Linked DNA regions of Homo sapiens: region 1 is linked to region 2. Evidence: fine-mapped expression QTL. A gene starts in region 2. The other region holds a variant in brackets. All regions are shown on one strand. Distances are from middle to middle.

Region 1 (8,904 bases), 74 kb before region 2:
GTTGGCATGGCGTCTTGCCTGTATATGCATCTTGCCAGTTGAACATCCTAGATGTTCAGTAAAGTTACTTGGGCATTACACATCTGTTTCTGTGTTAATTATATAATCCACAATTATTTGGATGGAGACAACATGAAGGAGGCAGAGAAGCCAGTTAGGAGGCTGCAGTCACTCAGGGGAGGCATGTCCCAGGCCACGGTCACCATGGGAATGGAGAGAAACAGACAGCTTCCAGAGGTAATTAGGGGATATCATGTACACAACATGGAGGTAAATTAAACATGAGATGGGGGCTCGAGGGAGAGGAAGGAAGCAAAGAAGATGTACGGGGGCTGGCTGGGGCCGCTCCATGGGCATCCTTCCCTAAGAGGATCACTGATGGTGAGGCAAGGGGCAGGGAGATGAGATTAGTTTAGGGATGGGAAGATCCTGGTGGAAACATCTAGTACACAGATGGACATATGGATCTGCAGCTTAGGAAAGATATCTGTGCCAAAGAGACAGATGAGGAAGTCGGAATATAAACATCTGGTAATTAAGGCAATGAGAGTAGGTGAAGATTTCATTGTAAGAAGTTATTACAGAGAGTGGGCTAGGTTATTCACAATACTCAGTCTGTAGTCTAAGAGTCTCCCACACATAGACTTGTATAGATACCCGGACTAAGCTGAGTATTAGAGTTAAGATTTGGTGCCCAGAGCAGATCAAGCCAGGTGAGCACAGAATTTAGAATTCTGAATTCTGTTTTAAGGAGGCATATTTCTCCTGAATGAACATTACTATATATTCTCCAGAACTTTATATGTTTATAGGTTATATGTGTGTATGTATGTGCACATAAGACAATGAAGTAATTCATTTTATAATGGATACAATAATTTAATAATAAACAGTTATGCTGAAAATACTCTGTTAAACAACAAATACATTATTTTTAAAATGTAAACTGCTCAAAAAAGCATTTTAAGGCCGGGTGCAGTGGCTCAGGCCTGTAATCCCAGCACTATGGGAGGCCAAGGTGGGTGGATCACGAGGTCAGGGGTTTGAGACCAGCCTGACCAACATGGTGAAACTCTGTTTCCACTAAAACTACAAAATTAGCCAGGCATGGTGGCACACGCCTGTAATCCCAGCTACCTGTGAGACTGAGGCAGGAGAATCGCTTGAACCAGGGAGGTGGACGTTGCAGTGAGCTGAGATCGTGCCATTGCACTCTAGTTTGGGCAACGAGAGTGAAATTTTGCCTCAAAAAAAATTTTTTTTAAAAAAGCATTTTAAGTAATTTAATACTGCACAAGATTTGCAGTCTGTGAGAAAAAGAATGAGAAAGAATCTTATTTAAGGTTAAGATGACTCCAGCATCTGATCTTCAAAAGACAGGCAGACAGGAGAAAAAGAGGAAGAGCAAGAAGCCGTGGTCACCTGGGCATTGAGTCTGGAGTGGAGCTTGTGGTCTGACAACCAGGGGTGCTTGAGAGCTTCGCTTGCACTTATTCGCCAACTAGAAGGAAATTCAGAAGGTGATTAGTAGAAACACACCGAAGAAGGCCTGTATCTGCTGTTCAATCTCAACTCCAGCTTCTGCCTTCGGGAGACCAGATGGCCGAATGTCAACTCATGGTCAATTCTGCCTTCTCTTGAATTGTGTGCTATCAATGATGGCATAGGTGACTATCGAATCCAATCAGGATAACATTAGTAAAGACAAACAAGGCAAATAATAAAAATTCTTGTTAATAACTGAACATTTACTTTCAAATATAAGTAACCATTTCTGTAGTATAACATCTGAGCTTAGTAAAGTGGATTCCTATCAGTCAGTTGAAAAATAAATATATATTTATTATTGTAAGAACAAAATGCTACAATGATTCTTGATGATTGCCAAAGCAATTTGTGTATTAAAACTTTTGAATAATAAATATTACTAACTTTTGAATTGAGAAGTTTTGAGTTAAATAGGTAGGGAAATAGAGTCGATGTAATTATTAAGAGAGGGACCATTAGATACTTTTATGAAGAAACAATATCCTTTTGGAGCCAGCAAAGGTTTATAAGATTTTGGGAAATAATATGAGGAAGAATAATATAGATTTACCATATTTAAATTCTAAGTTCTATACATTTGTTTGATGTGCTAACATTTATCACATTAAAACAAATAACCTTTCAAAATAAAAACTGTAGGCCAGGTGCAATGGCTCATGCCTGTAATCCCAGCACTTTGGGAGGCCGAGGCGGGTGGATCACGAAATCAGGAGTTCAAGACCAGTCTGGCCAAAATAGTGAAACCCCGTCTCTACTAAAAATACAAAAAATTAGCTGGGTGTGGTGGGGCACACCTGTAATCCCAGCTACTCAGGAGGCTGAGGAAGGAGAATCACGTGAACCCAGGAGGTGGAGGTTGCATTGAGCCAAGATCGTGCCATTGCACACCAGCCTAGGTGACAGTGTGAGATTCTGTCTCAAAAAAAAAAAAAAAAATGAAAAAACAAACAAACAAACAAAAAACCTGTAAGTGAATGTAACAATCTGAAGTCAAAGAGGCAGTTTCAAGCAGTAATGAAGCTTCAGTTTGTAGGATTGCTTCAATGCAATCGCTTCATCAGATACCAAAATATTTAAGTATAAGATTTGAAGAGGAGATAAGTCTTTATTACATCAATGAACTTGGTGACAACATCACCATTATAGTGCCAAAAACAGGCAGAGGTAATTTTTAAAAACCTCGTGACCTCCATCAACCTCAGTTGGAAGTGTGGTTCTGCTTAGTGTCATAAATTTTCAGTACTGGATCTCCAGAGCATTCCAATGGCTGACCAAGGTGAAAAATGATGATTCTGTACTCTAGTGTCGAACTTCTTAAATCTGGCTATTAAAAAGTTAACAATAACATTGTACTAATAATTAAACTTAATAACATTTCAAGTTTATTTCTGTACCCCAGAAATTTATTCTATGATAGTGGTGTTTGGCTTTTGGCTTTAGTTTCATCCAAGCATTGACTGGAATTCTAAGCCAGTTGCCATCGGCCCAAATGGGCATCTGATGCTCCTTGGGCATTCATGAAGCCCTCAGACTGAAGGAGTGAGCGGCACTGGAGCCCACTGGGCCCACCTCTGCATCTGCTCTGAGATAGCCGTGTGACTGCAGCACTGCTCTCAGCCTCAGTTTCCCCATGTGTAAAATGATGGTCTCCACAGACCACAGGATTATCCAGAAGCCAAATAAGATAACACATGAAAGTACACATGTAAAACAGGTTCACAGTAAATGTGGACTTCTCGTCCTCCAAAGATTTGAAAGGGTTGACAGTTTCCATCTGTTCACTGCCTTGGGTAGAGTAATGTGCTCATAATAATAACCTTGGCTGTTATTGTGCCTTTCCATCAAGGCACAATACTAGCCAAGGTTATTATTATTATTAATCCATTATTTGTGAATTGTCCCTCCTGTCGGACTGATACCCCTAGCCTGGCTAGGTTCTCTTCATCCTCTAAGGATGGCCTTATCTTTGTGTTAACCACATTTTATTACATCTTTTTAAAAAATATCTATCCCTTTTATTAGATGGTGAGTTACTATAGGCAGGGACTGGATTTGTGCCTCTATTCTTAGCACATGACACATTTCCTGGCACACAGTAGGTGATCAACACTTGAATGAAAGCATCTCCTGCCAAGCTGTGTGCCAGACCCACTGCCCACACTGTTTCCCCACTCCCTGTGACACCCTTCTACCTGTTGATCCACAGCCATGTGTATTAGTGACTTTAAAGCCATAAAGATAATAAAACGATAAGGCAAGTGCTATTGACCCTGAAAACCTTAACTACTTCAATCATTATACGGCTCAGGTATAAAGCCATCTGAAACAGCGTGTTTGATGGGTTAATCACAATGCCCTTCCCCTTCTATGATTCTAAAATGCAAATCCCTATATTTCAATGTCACTCTTTTTCATTCACTGAATTTTGAATTAATGTGGTTTTAGCATAACAGAAAATAGAGGGCCATGTAATAAATAACAGCCAAGTGTGCGGCCGTTGGGGAAGGAGAACTATCTGTTTGAGCCTCTGTTCTGCCAATTACTGGCGGTATGATGATGGGCAAACCACGTGGGATCTTCTACCCGATTTCTGCCTCATGGAGTTGGGGTCAGGGGTGGTAGTTAAAAGAGATAATGTCTACAAAGCACTTGGCATGATCTGGCCCACAGTAGTTTCCCAAATGAAATGGTAGTTAAAGATTCAGCTACACGGAACCATATACAGCTTAGTAGAGGTGAAAGGAATCCTAGAAATACTTCTCCCAAGCCTTCCATTTTGACAGTGAGTCAACTAAGGCCCAGCAGGAGTCCATGGCTGGTATGGCCATATGATAAATGGCAGGAAGAGAAAGGTTTGTGTAGCTTCATGACCAAAGCAGTCCCAGATCTCAGTAGACTGGGTCAAGAGGCTCAAACCTCATTCTATCCATGACTTTGCGCAAGCATCACAGATGTTAGTAAGAGAATAAATTCGAACAGCCCTGGTGGTAGGCCCTGCTTCCTTATCATCCCTACTGCGCCCGGAGCACAGGACGAACTTGCGTTACCTCTTCTCCTTAATCAGAAGCTTAGAGATGAACTCCTTGGCCTCCTCCGAGATGTCCTGAAATTCTTCATCCTCTAAGTCCCACCTGCAGGCCAGGATGTTGTTCAGCGTCTCAGCATCATTGTCACCCAGGAAAGGCGACAAACCGCTAAGTCTGGAGGACACGGGGTCCAGAGTGAGTATTTTTTAAACAGCCTCAACCCCTTTCCATACAGATTGCTTTTCTGGTTGTGCCATTTAAAGGTGAGAGAAGGAAAATAACCTAATCCTGAAGCATAATTTTATAACATATTATTGTAATCAAGAAAATGCTTGCCGCCCCCACCCAACTCCTAACTGAACAACTGCAGCAATAACAGAATATGAATATGAATATCAGCTTCCTTTTTAAAGCACTTTTCAGCTTGCAAAGTGCTACTACATGCTCAGATGGCAAACGCTAGGCATGTCACCTCTGAGGGGTGAGGCTAGCCTGAGTCATTTAGGAGATCA[GT/G]TTTTTTTTTTTTTTTTTGAGACGGAGTCTCGCTGTGTCACCAGGCTGGAGTGCAGTGGCGTGATCTCGTTTCACTGCAACCTCCACCTCCTGGAAGCAATTCTCCTGCAGCCTCCCGAGTAGCTGGGATTACAGGTGCATGCCACCACGCACGGCTGATTTTTGTATTTTTAGTAGAGATGGGGTTTCACCATGTTGGCCAGGATGGTCTCAATCTCTTGACCTCGTGATCCGCCCACCTCAGCCTCCCAAAGTGCTGGGATTACAGGCTTGAGCCACCGCGCCAGGCCATGTGAGCTTTTTAAATTAATTTTTGGCTTTTAGGTTGTGTCCTAGGAGTTAAAGTGATTAATGAAGAGGACACACATTTACTTTTCCAAATGATGTGCAGGGAAAGAATTCACTCCTTTCACCCACAGGAGTCAACAAAACCTAGAAGGCAACTGAGGATGGGACAGTGTTATTTATTTTTTAAATACCCCAATTGGGGCTTTTATTTAAAACGGCAAAACCTCAGAAAATATGCATGGAGTTGGAGAAGGGTCAGAGACAGAGGAGAGCTACTCACAGCATATAGGCGATGACCCCCACACTCCACATGTCAGTGGGAAATGAAACAAAATCATAGTTCACAACTTCAGGGGCGAGAAATTCTGGGGTTCCAAAGTTCACCTTCAGCTTCTCTCTGGGTTTGTATCTGCAATTTAAGAGACAAAGTGGAAGGATGGACGTGTCGATCAAAAATCGTGAACACTGAAATGATGTAGTCTATGAGACAAAATGACTTCAGCCATACAGCAAACTTCAGACAAACAAACATTGAAGGAAATCAAACAATCAAGCAAGAGGCTCAAAAACTTGTAAAGAGGCCCCAGAAAATTTAAAAGTCAAAATTCATACTAGGAAACCTTAAAAGCTGAACCAGTTGTTGGAGAAGCTGCTGTGAATAATGAGAACATCTGAATTACAGAAGATGACAAGAGGAAAACTGATATAGTCATTGACATGGGGATGATGTGAATAAGCCTGTAAAATGAATAAACACAGTACTGCAATAATTTACAACATCCATTTTATATGTGTCGTTAATGTGCTGAATTGTTAATGTGTCCACGTAAACTCTTTGTTCCCTGAAGAATCTTTTATGTGCCAGAACCCTTTGCAAACTTGCTTACGTTGTTAATATTTTTAAAGTAAATCTTCTCTGTACAGATGGATCAAATATGAAAGAGGGGACAAACTCTTGCAAATGCTAAATTAATGGCTTCTAATTTAATAAACTTCACTGTATTAGGTTTTAATTTTTTATACTTTTTACTGCATGCATTATAGAAACTTCTAAACACTCAAGTCTCAAATTTAGCAAGTTAAGGCCAAACATAATTTTTGTTAAATTAATTATAAATGAGATCATGAAACCAAAGAGCAGATCAGATATATGTTTGCAAAGGAAGGGCAACCATCATGTCCCCCAGCTCCATTCGTACACCTATGTCCAAATAGACATACCTTCTGGCCAATCCAAAATCAATAATTTTTATTTGCTTAGCATCCCGATTCACACACAGGATATTCTCAGGCTGCCAGGAGAAAGAGACACATTAGCAATGAAAACAACCATCATTCACTCAAATTGTCCTTGAACCACAACTAAAAATACAACGATGCTCAGAAAAAACATATCAGGCCTTTCACTTCGGGGCGGGCTTGTCCGTGTGGGTACTTTCTCCTTTAATTATGTGGTGGATGAGGTTGCGGGTATCCTGCCAACCCTGCATTATCCAGCCTGTCCTCTGCACGGCTTCACAGTTCACCATAATGCCTGAGTTCAGGCAGAGGCCTTGAGGGGAGCAAGAAAAGGAGGTTGCTTCAGTCCTTCCCAAATGTGCTGTGGAGGCCCGCTCAGGCCTGACATCTGCCCCTCTAAATTATTCAGTATGAATTTCCCCTTCTTGGAGAAATATTTTTCCCAAGATTGATGAGTTCCAAGGGAATTGACCTGCTCCATTCAAACAGCCACACTGAACATGCACTGTCACGTGAACGTTCCGGCCTCCAGAGCTTCCCTTTGCTCAACGCCTATGGGAAAGTCGCACGGCAGAGGAGGGCTTTTCTCTCCAGTCGTTCTTCAGTCTCAGCAGTTCCAAGGTTTTGCTGAGTTTGGTCTCAATGCCTAAAACCCCTGACTAAGTGTTCCCTTGGAGCTAGGCCCTGGTAAGACCTTAGCCTGCTGACCTGACAGTCTTGGGGTGCAGGGGGAGAAAATGGGGTGTAGTGCAGCCACTCAGTGTTCACAGAATGCCTTACAAGTGCACCTAATGTTTACTGGGGTAGAAAAACAGAGGTCTTGGGAAAGTAAGAGATTTGATTTAAAGTCAAGGCCATTTATAAAAGAGAAAAAAAGTTTTCAGAGTTAAGAACCCTCAGTCCCAATTCTTTACAAGCTGGAGGGCACCATCCCAGAAGCCAAATGCCCAGGATCCCGTTCCTCAGCCTTTAGTGGGATCAGGCTCCCCTCCCCAACCTGTCCAGGTGGAGAAGAGGTTCCAATGAGATCAGAAATTCAGAAACACATTATGAAATGACATAATGTCTCCTTATCAATATTCAATAGTACATTTGGTTGGGCAGAATATCTTTGGAAGCCCTTTTCTAAACTATCTCTAAAACAGATGTTTGTGAGTAAAAGTCATTATAGAGAAGGGGGTGCTACGTGAACCATTTGGTTTCATGCTTAAATCACTGATGGATCATGTATAAAGCTGTCCAATTGTGAAGGAGTACTGTGGCATCAAAAAGTTTGCAGGATATAGAGAAACCGTTTTGAGGGCATTTCAATAAGTTAGCCTTTTTATGACGATAAAATTAAACAATGTTCATTGGATAAATTTTGCAAAACAGAAAAATATAAAACAGACTGTTTGTAAGTCACCTATAATCTCCCCCCACATACTGACAATCACTCAATATTTTTGGCCCTTTTCCTTCCAAGGAGCTTTCAGAAAAGCAGCTCCTTAAGGACCCATCCAGCTGTCACCTTTATGATGATCTCTGCATCCAAGCCATAACTAAAACTGCCCACTGCAGGTCCTCAATCAATGTTATGAAGCCTCATATGGAGTCATTTGACTTACAATAGGTTTGCTCCTAGTTCCAGTTGCCAATCAAATCCCTGTAGGGATATCTGCAGAATATCTACATTCAATGAAAATGCTCCATGAAAGCATGCATTATCAAACTCAGTTCATAGTGAGGGTTTTGCTAATGATTTTTAGCCTCTGACTTTGTCATTTTATAAACCACTTCCTCCTGCTCTCCTCCTGCTCAAAAGTGAATGGGAAAGGCAAGGCACATAAATCAAGACAGTGAGGGAAGCCAAGTTATAGGAAGAGAGGCCCATGGAAACCTATTTCAGGAGGCTAAATTTATTTAGCTATGCAATCCCTAGTGAATGCAATAGATGGGATGTTATATAGATTGTATATTTTATGTTACTGTCACGCTGTGCAAACAGGGAAATGAGAAAATGACCAAGCCACACAAGACGTACTTTATGATACTTAGTCCCAATATGGGACTTGATCAGGGTTGTTGGGCCTAGGTCTTTTATTGGTTGTAACTAAGACTACATACAGTCCGATTCTAGGAACTTCATAATGAGACATGAGAGAGGTAAAGAGGGAAGGGGCAATCAATAGGAGGAGAAAGAAAGGCGGCTTGGCTTCTGTGTGCTTTCCACCATTGGCAGTGGGGTGCCCACCCCACCCTCTCTTCTCCTTAGCACTTTGGCCCCATCCTTCCGACTGTCCTCTGCTGC
Region 2 (8,904 bases):
CTGTTGCCCACGCTGGAGTGCAGTGGTGTGATCATAGCTCACTGCATCCTTGAACTCCCGGGCTCAAGCAATCCTCCTGCCTCAGCCTCCCAAGTAGCTGGGACTACAGATGTGTGCCACCATGCCCGCTATTTTATTTGTATTTTTTTATTTTTGTAGAAATAGACATCTCACCATGTCACCTGGGCTGGTCTCAAACTCCTGGCCTCCAGTGATTCTCTTGCCCCAGCCTCCCAAAGTGCTGGGATTACAGGTATGAGCCATGTGTCCTGCTTATCTCACTCTTTAGAGTGTTGCCCATTTATAAAAATTGTATCATAGATTTTGGAGAAAAACAGTACTTGAAAGATAATGAAATTCATATAAACTATTACAGTTAGTTGATGATTTCAAAGTTCTCCAAGAAGAATATTTTGTCTTCTCTGTCCTACCGAAATTAATAAACAGAAAAAATTATCCTGTTTGTACCACTGAAAACCCTAATGAGAAAGTCATGTCTCACTTAATTTTGCCTGTAGATATTTCTCCTTGGTCTATATTGAACTCATGGGGAAAGCAGAGGTCTCAAAAAAATGTTTCAATCTGATTCATTTATTCTCTCCAGCACATTTTGTCATTTCTTATTCACTTACAATAAAAAGCCTCCTAGACCTTTTATATACAATCTCTCTATTTCATTGTCTATTGCATTGTTAGAAACGCCCTTCCTACCTGAATAGTGTTTTTTAGAACAGTAGCTGGGCAAAGAAGGATGTTTTCCAAACCTGCCTGATAAGAATCACTTGCTCTGATTATCAAAAATAATGGTTCCCAGCCCTCAACCAGAATTCACTTAAATAGATCTGTGCATTCCAAAAACACTTTTGGTGCCTATTTGTTTCCGTTACTAGGAAAGCAACTGAGGAAACATGAACAAATAACACGAGGTTTCCCAACCTTAAGGAGCCTTGTCTAGAGAAAGGTGATCAACATGTTCAAAACCACCACATGTGCTGGAATGAAGGCACGGGCAAAATGCTTGATGCTCCCACCGGGCAAGGAGCCAACGGATGATGGGCAGGAACTGACTGGGCCAAGGCAGGGGAGGTAATTGCTGCTGCCGCTAACACATATTAAATGCTGACTCTAGTGACAGATACTAGGCGGAGTGCTTTACAGACGTGATCACACTTAATTTTCACAATTGCTATTATCTCACTAATTCAGATGTGGCAAGCCCTTGGTTAAATTAATATTTTTCCCAAGAACGAGCAGCTGGAATGGGGCTCAGAACTCTCGTTCTGCACAGAGGAGGGTACAAGCCCCACCGTCGTGCCATCAGCAAGTCTTTCTTGTCCCTTCTCTGGACTTCACTATCAACAGCTCTGCTGTCTACCGCGTGAGGAACTCAAGATCTGAAGGAAAAAGGAGAAACTTCTTTCTGCAGAACAGTGTGCCTCTCAGAGCCCTTTTCTGAATTTCAAGCCCAAATCCATCATGCTAAAGGATTCTTCTTCATTTCTGCAAGCTGGCTGTATAACTCCTAAGCCACTAACTAAAAGTGAAGTCGACTGCTGGCAGAAATGCAGTTTCAAAGGCCTCCTAATTATTTACCAAACACAATTGTATAGTCGACACACACAATTCTCACTGAAGCAAAGTGGAATGATGCCTATTCATAAACTTTCCTTAATTGTACTCACAAGCGGCTCCATGACATTAGAAAAGATAAGATAGAATGAATACTTTTTAGGAGACTAAATTAGAACATGATTACCTCATTATGTCCAGATCTTGAATCCTGGTCCCCAGAATTTTTTTCCAGAAAACACTTCACTTTCTCCACCTCTTCCCTGCACTGAAAAAAGGCCATTTTCTCCAGCTGGTTGCTGTTATAACACGTGTTGAATTCTTCCAGCCTCTTCACTTTTAACATCTTAGTAGTGAGTCCGATTAAGCTACTTTCTGGAGTGTGGTTTTCGTCTCCCTCTGTCTCCGATTTATAAATCAGGACACAATTATGACTCTTCAGTGCTTCTTTCTCTTGACTGCAAAGAAAGGAAACACAAAAAGTTCTCATCACGTATTCATGCATTTGACTTCTTGAGAAAATGACCAGTGAGAATTTGGAAGTCCCTTCTGTTTAAACTGGAGAGAGGATCCAAAATCAGGAAAAGAAATACTAACATTCATATTGAGTTTCCAACATTGGAACTTTAAAAGGAAAAAAAATTTTTTCACTTTAAAACTACAAAAGCAAACAGTAAGAAGCAATGTCAAGATTCACTGGTGATGAAATATGCTCCTTATTGCACAAAACAAGCCGTAGATCAAGTGGCCAGCTTGGATGTAAATTATAAAGTATCTTTGGGTTTAATTGGAACCGCAGGTTTTGCAGCCCCGTGGGAAGGGCTTATCACAGAAGGGGTCTCTCTGCTTCCCCTGGCCTCCCTCTGCAGAGGGATCGCTCCCGAATGAGTCCTTTTCCAGAACTCTTCTCTACCTATGCCTTAAAATGTGTGGTGTTTATTTGTGAAAAGAAATTTATTTCCTTACAGTCTTCTCACGTGGACAGCACTCCCAGATACCTTTCCTTGCATCTGCATTAACAGCTATGTACCGAGAAGTTCAGAGTCTTTTCACTCTCCTTAAAATACTTTCCTCGCAAATGAAGTAATGCAGCATACATAATTCGCTTTGATACTAGAGACATATACGCATGTCTATATGTACACATCACTTGATTGCATAGAGAGGCAGGGAGAGGGAGAGACATTTGAATTTGTGCTAGTTCCGCATGGCTGACAACTGAGGCCCCCTGGTGGAGATTTTCCGAAAAGCGCCTCTTCGAGCATTTTCTCCGCTTAAAAACCGTATTGTGATTCTCATCAGAAAACTTAATATTTTGTTTTGTCAGTTCCTATAGTAAAATGATACTCTTGAGTTCCAAAGTGTTTAAAATTCACTGCTCTAACAAATTATACTTATCCACATAAAGAGCTTACATTCAAACAAATAAAAATGCAAATATTAATACTATCAACCAGAGCTCTACAGATATATTACAGATCATTCTTAGCATTCTTTCAAATTGCCCTGAAAAAATTATTAAAATAAGGAAACAAATGCATGGCTATTTCTAAGGCAAACTACGACTAAAATACTATGGTTAATTGCAGATGAAACTCAAGTTGGATCAGGAAGCCACACAAAATTAATGTATTAAAACAAAAGCTTAGGATTAAGATACAATAATTTTGCAAAGAAATATTAAACATTAAGCTCTACCTGAAGTTTGGTACAATTTGTTATTGAAGGTAACTTAGAAAAAAGGGGAGGAGATTTGAGAGGTTATAACAATAAACAAAGATAATTACCATTGATAGGATCACATCGAAGAGCTTGAGCCACTCCAAGTCTAGAGCATACATTCCAGAAGATAAAGAGAAATTTTGCAGAATTCAAACTGACTATGAAAGTCTCTGGTAAAAGTTTTGACTCTCAGTCGTATAAATCTTCTGAAAAGACAAGTGTCCACTACGAGAGGAAGTATCTTCTCTCTCAAATGCCACTTTCAGCCCCTGTTTAAATTAATATGGCTCTTGATCTCACGTTGCTCAGCTGTTGCCTTCTTAGTCAGATGGGGAAGAATATTAATTTTAGACACCAGGCTTTTCAAGGCCAATGGCTCCATTTCAGAGGTCAGGTAAGGAGAGGATGAACCGGGAACACTGGATGAAATATCACCTTCACCTTTCCCTCGTATCATTGTGTCAATACTCTCGGATTTACAAAGCTAGATTTGTCCTCGGCAATCATCTGCCTGGACCTTCTGCCCCTTTCAGACTCAGGATTATTTAAGTGCTCATTAAATTTCCCCCAGTAGGGAAAATGCCAGGTGTGGCAACCCCACAGCCACCTCTGTTTGCCCATCTTACGCTTTGAGCATATCCAACTGCAATATAGAAGATCTTCTGAAAGCAGTTAGCAAGTTTGTTTTATTTTTCTCAGTTCTTAAAGATGTTTGCAAAGTCTCCAACCATTTCTAGCTCTAGGGAAAGGTCAAAGGCACAGGCATCCAGGAAACAGGAATAAATTTTTCATAAATTCTCCTTAAGCAACACTAGGACTTCATCCGTAGTTTTCTGCACAGACCAAGAAAGGGGAATTTCAACCCACCTGCCCGACTCTCACAGTAGTGCATCCCTAGATTCACTGAAGTGGCATAAAACTTTGATTGCCCAGAGGCTGGACTTTGCAGTCTTGAAAACCCTGCAATTTTTCAGGGCCTGGCCAATTGTCACCTCTTATTTGGAGCCTGTGTTAGCCCCTCTATGCCCCATTCTAACACCAGCCTCTGCTGCTCTTCTGCTTCTTTTAAAAAAAAAACCTTATTTTTAATTCAGATCGATGCATTCCATGTGAAATAAAAATACATATTTTTCCATTTTATGTAGTATTAATGAATTACAGCAAAATCTTTTTTAAAACACAAAACGCTTGTTATTTTTCAGATTGGAGAGCTTTGTTCTTCAGCAAAAGTAATGAAGTGGAACTATAAATTTGTGGAGATAAATTATCTGACAAAAGTATTATACAAAGACTAAGCTGGTTTGAGGTTACCAATTTTGTTAGTATAATTAAATTGTGTAGAAGTACTGATAAGGCAACAAATGCCCTGCCAGAGGCAAGATGTGTGTGGGCTGCTGCTGATCCAACCACATCCTCCACCCGGACCACCACCACGCAAAAGCAGACTTCCTATCTCGTTGGCTCCAGCAAACCAACCACAGGCTTGAGTGAGCCAGAGGCCAGGAGAATCTGCTCCTTAGCTTATTTTTTTGTAATAAACTTTTCCTTTTAGAGTAGTTTTACATCTACAGAAAAGGTGCAAAGGTAGTTCAGAGTTCCCCTTGCCCTGCACCCCGAATCCTCTGTTTTTAACATCTTACGTTGGTATGGTATACTTGTCACAATTAATGAACCATGGTGAACGTTATTATTAACTAAACTCAATACTTTATTGTTGCTGGGTTTTTTTTTTCCCCAAATGCCCCTTTTCTGTTCCAGAATCCCATGCAGGATTCCACAGTACATTTAGAATCAGTAGGATTTATGATAGATTGGGTATGGGGTATGAAAGAAAGATGGTAGACACCTTTGCATATTTTCTTCTGAGCACTTGAAAGACAGAGTGAACATTAACTGAGATGGAGACGGCTGTGGGAAGGGCAACTCTGGAGGGAAAGGTCAGGCATGAAGTCTTTGGCAAGTCCATTAAACGTTCAAGTTGAATAGGCTGTGGAGATAGAAACTGGAGTTCCGGGGAGGGGTGTAGGCTGGAGATAAGAATTTGGAAGGCATCCACATATAGACATTTCCATGCACAATATACATTCAATACATATTTGATTAATGACTAGATAGAATGATCTTTAATTGTGTCTACTTGCCCTAAAAAGCAAGTCAATTAAAATAATCCATGCTAAAAGTGACTGATTGTCTGGTTCTGCTGCATCACACTGTTCCCAGCTTCCGATGGCATACAGGACAAGCACACTGCTGGCACAACCCTTGACCACAAAAAAACAGGTTATACATGCATACTCATTCTGGTCTATCAGCCTAGCCTCAGGATCCTAAGTCCATACCCATAAAATGTTCTGCATGCTTAAAGATGCTCTTATACCCGGAAAAATTCATTAGTGAGGAATATGAGCAGGCCCAGGAACACTTTTCCAGTATTTCCATATTTTGGAGTTATACTTCTCTAAAAAATACCAACATCAGGAAAACAGCACCCTACAGAGCCATGGAAAAGAATCCCTTGATTTTTTTCAAGGGACATTTCCATTAGCTGAGTAAGAGACTGTGTTGTCAAAGGAGCCACATGAAGAAACATCGTCGACAGCTCTTGTCTACGGGTTGGCATTGAAACCCGGCTGGATTACACTAAGAGTTTTTGTTTCTACACAGCGTTCTGAATGTTTCCAGAACAAGACCTCTTGAATGTTTACACACAAAAGCGGAGCAACAGTACAAATACCCAAATGCAAATAAAAAGCTACTGCATCCCTGTTACCCACATTACAATAGAACTTCCTTACTTTCAAAAATCACCACTGAATACGACCCATAAAAACGAAGATTGATAAATTGCACTTCTTCAAAATTCAAAACGTTTGCCTTTGAAAAAACACTATTAGGAAAATGAAAAGACACTATTATGAAAATGAAAAGACCAGCTACAGATGTATAGAAAATACTGTGAAGTCACATATTTGACAAAGGACTGCATCTAGCATATACAACTTAATAATATATGACAAAACATTCCAGTTTTTTAAATGGACAAAAGATTAAAACAGACCTCACCAAAGAAGATATAAAAATGGTTAATAAGCACATGAAAAAAAATGCTCAAAATCAGTCATCAGGGAGATGCAAATTAAAACCACAAGGAAACATCATTTCACACCCACTAGGAGAGCTGTAATAATAATGAAAAAAATAAAAGATAGGTTGGGTGTGGTGGCTCACACCTGTAATCCTAGCACTTTGGGAGGCCAAGACAGGAGGATCACTTCAGTCCAGGAGTTTGAGACCAGCCTGGGCAACATAGCAAGACCCCATCTCTACCAAAAAAAAAAAAAAAAAGACAGAGAAAAGCAAGTGTTGACAAGGATGTGGAAAAACTGGAACCCTCACCAAATATGTTGATGGGAATATAAAATGATACAGGTGTCTTATAAAAGAGGTTGGCAATTTCTTAAAAAGTTATTTCCCATATGACCTAGAAATTCTTCTCCTAGGTATCTACCCAAGAGAAATGAAAACATATGAACACAGAAACCATGGCACATGAATGTTCACAGCAGCATTATTCACAATAGCCAAAAACTGAAAACAACCAAAATGTCCATCGGATGATTTGGAGACTGGGAAAAGATAATGTGGTATACACATACAAATGGAATACTACGTAATTAAAAGGAATGAAATACTGGTATCTACTACAATATGGATGAGCGAAAACACTGTGCTAATTGAAAAAAAAAAGCCAGAAACATAGAGCACAGATTGTATGATTCCATTTGTATAAAATGCTCAGAAAAGACAAATCTATAGACGTAGAAAGCAGACTGGTGGTTGCCGGGGGCTGGGTGCAGGAATGGGGGTTAATTGTAAACAGAATCTTACCCGATGATGTGTGGTAGTGATGACTGTACAACTCATTCAGTTTCTTAAAACAATGCAGAATTGTGCACTTGAGATGGGTGAATTTTATAATATGTAAATTATACTTCAATAGAGTCATTAAGAAAAAGAAAACCCAATAATATGATTAACAAAAAGTAGCTTGTTAAAAGGAGAGGAAAAAACTGAACACTTTGTGGTCATCTGTCCCCAGTGACCAAGGCTGGGATCCAGGGAAACATAAATTATATTCCACACTTGCCAGGTCACCTAGGGCCAAAGAAAAGGAATGGTGAGCAGGAGACAGTTAAGAGTCTCACGCTTTTCTTCTCCTGGCATGAATATCATGCAATATAAGATTTTGTAATTAATAGAAAAATTAATAGTAATTTTAAAAGTAATTTCTATCTTTTATTTTCTGCTTGGAGATAGGATACTTTGAGCAAGAAAGATAATGATGTTATGGAATATCCAGATTTCTTTACAGGAAATTTTGATATTAGACCACTAAAACTTCTAAGTGACAGCAATTAGCTAAGTATTACGAAATACAAAAATGAAAATAAAACAGGTTTTAAAAATTAGATAAAAATATGGATTGGATCATTTAAAAATTAATATTTTTCAGAAATATTACATAAAGTTTCAGTTTATTACCTCTACAGTGGCTACACAAATTGTTCCTTTAATTATATCCCTTAAACTTTCTAAGGGATATTTGCAAGCATAGTACAATGAATACCTATACATCCTTCACCCATATTCACCAAATGTTAGCATTTTCCATGTTTGCCCTCTCTCTCTCTTTTGCGAGTAAGATGCATATCTCATGAAACTTTACCCCTATATGAATTGGTGTATGTTTCTTGAGAAAAAAGACACTTTCTCACATAACAGAATCTACTCAAAAATTACATAGCGCATTTAATCACCATGTCTTCTTAGTCTCCTTTTATCTATTTAGGAAATGGTCATTCCGTTTATTTTATTTTATTTTACTTTTTGAGACAAGGTCTCACTCTGTTGCTTGTGCTGGAGTGCAGTGGCGTGAACACAGCTCACTGCAGCCTTGACCTTGGCTCAAGTGATCCTCCTGCCTCAGCCCTCCAAGTAGCTGGGACTATTGGCAGGCACCACCACACCAGGCTAAGTTTTGTATTTTTTGTGGAGATGAGGCTTCCTAGTCTCTCTCTCTTTTTTGTAATCCTTCATGACATTGATATTTTTGAAGTCTTTGGACAAATTGTTTCATAAAATGTCTCTCAATTCTAATTTCCTGATTGTGTCTTCATGCTTGGAACCAGGTTATACCTGAGCATGAAAACTACAGAAGTGACACTGTATCTTTTTCAGAACATCACAAAAGGTGGCACATGATGTCGGTTTGTGCCATTATTCGTGATATTAAATTTGGTGATCTGATTAAGGTTGTGTCCACCAGACTTCTCAAATGTAAAACTAACCCTTTTATTTTTGTGATTGATAAATAACTTGTGGGAATTTATAGGTATCATGTTCCCCAACAATGCATCACCCAACGTTTCTCAGTATCTATTCTTGAGAATCAATGATTACCACAGAGACTGTGAAATGATTTTCTAATTCTGCCATTTCTTCTATACTTATTAATTGGTATTCTTTTATAAAGAAGAGCTTTCCATCCCCATCCTGAACCTCACTCTCTTTAGTATCAGGATGAGCTTATGGCCTTTTAAAAATGGACATACA

Direction of the effects. Positions count from the first base shown, and alleles are read on the strand shown. Sizes are in standard deviations (SD) of each study's normalised expression.
With allele GT in place of G in region 1, the expression in B cells of the gene that starts at base 3,543 in region 2 is lower (large effect, 1.2 SD a copy in Schmiedel 2018).

What was found. PIP is the estimated chance that this variant, and not a neighbour inherited with it, causes the effect.
Region 1: its variant is fine-mapped to the expression of MYLK4 in B cells (Schmiedel 2018, PIP 0.95). The same link has a PIP of 0.9 or more in Th1/17 cells and naive CD4 T cells.

Annotation. Positions count from the first base shown.
Region 1 is chr6:2,673,625-2,682,528 of GRCh38, forward strand. It overlaps MYLK4 (myosin light chain kinase family member 4), which reads right to left. Exons shown (of 13, transcript NM_001012418.5): 8 at 6,597-6,667; 9 at 5,656-5,784; 10 at 4,596-4,748; 11 at 1,423-1,501. Among named protein-coding and RNA genes, the nearest start is that of LINC01600, 43 kb to the left of the region's middle. The variant GT/G (reference allele first, on the strand shown) is at 5,087.
Region 2 is chr6:2,747,380-2,756,283 of GRCh38, forward strand. MYLK4 (myosin light chain kinase family member 4) reads right to left here and starts at 3,543. Exons shown (of 13, transcript NM_001012418.5): 1 at 3,357-3,543; 2 at 1,757-2,027. The coding sequence starts at 1,915. RefSeq lists a silencer at 5,116-5,410.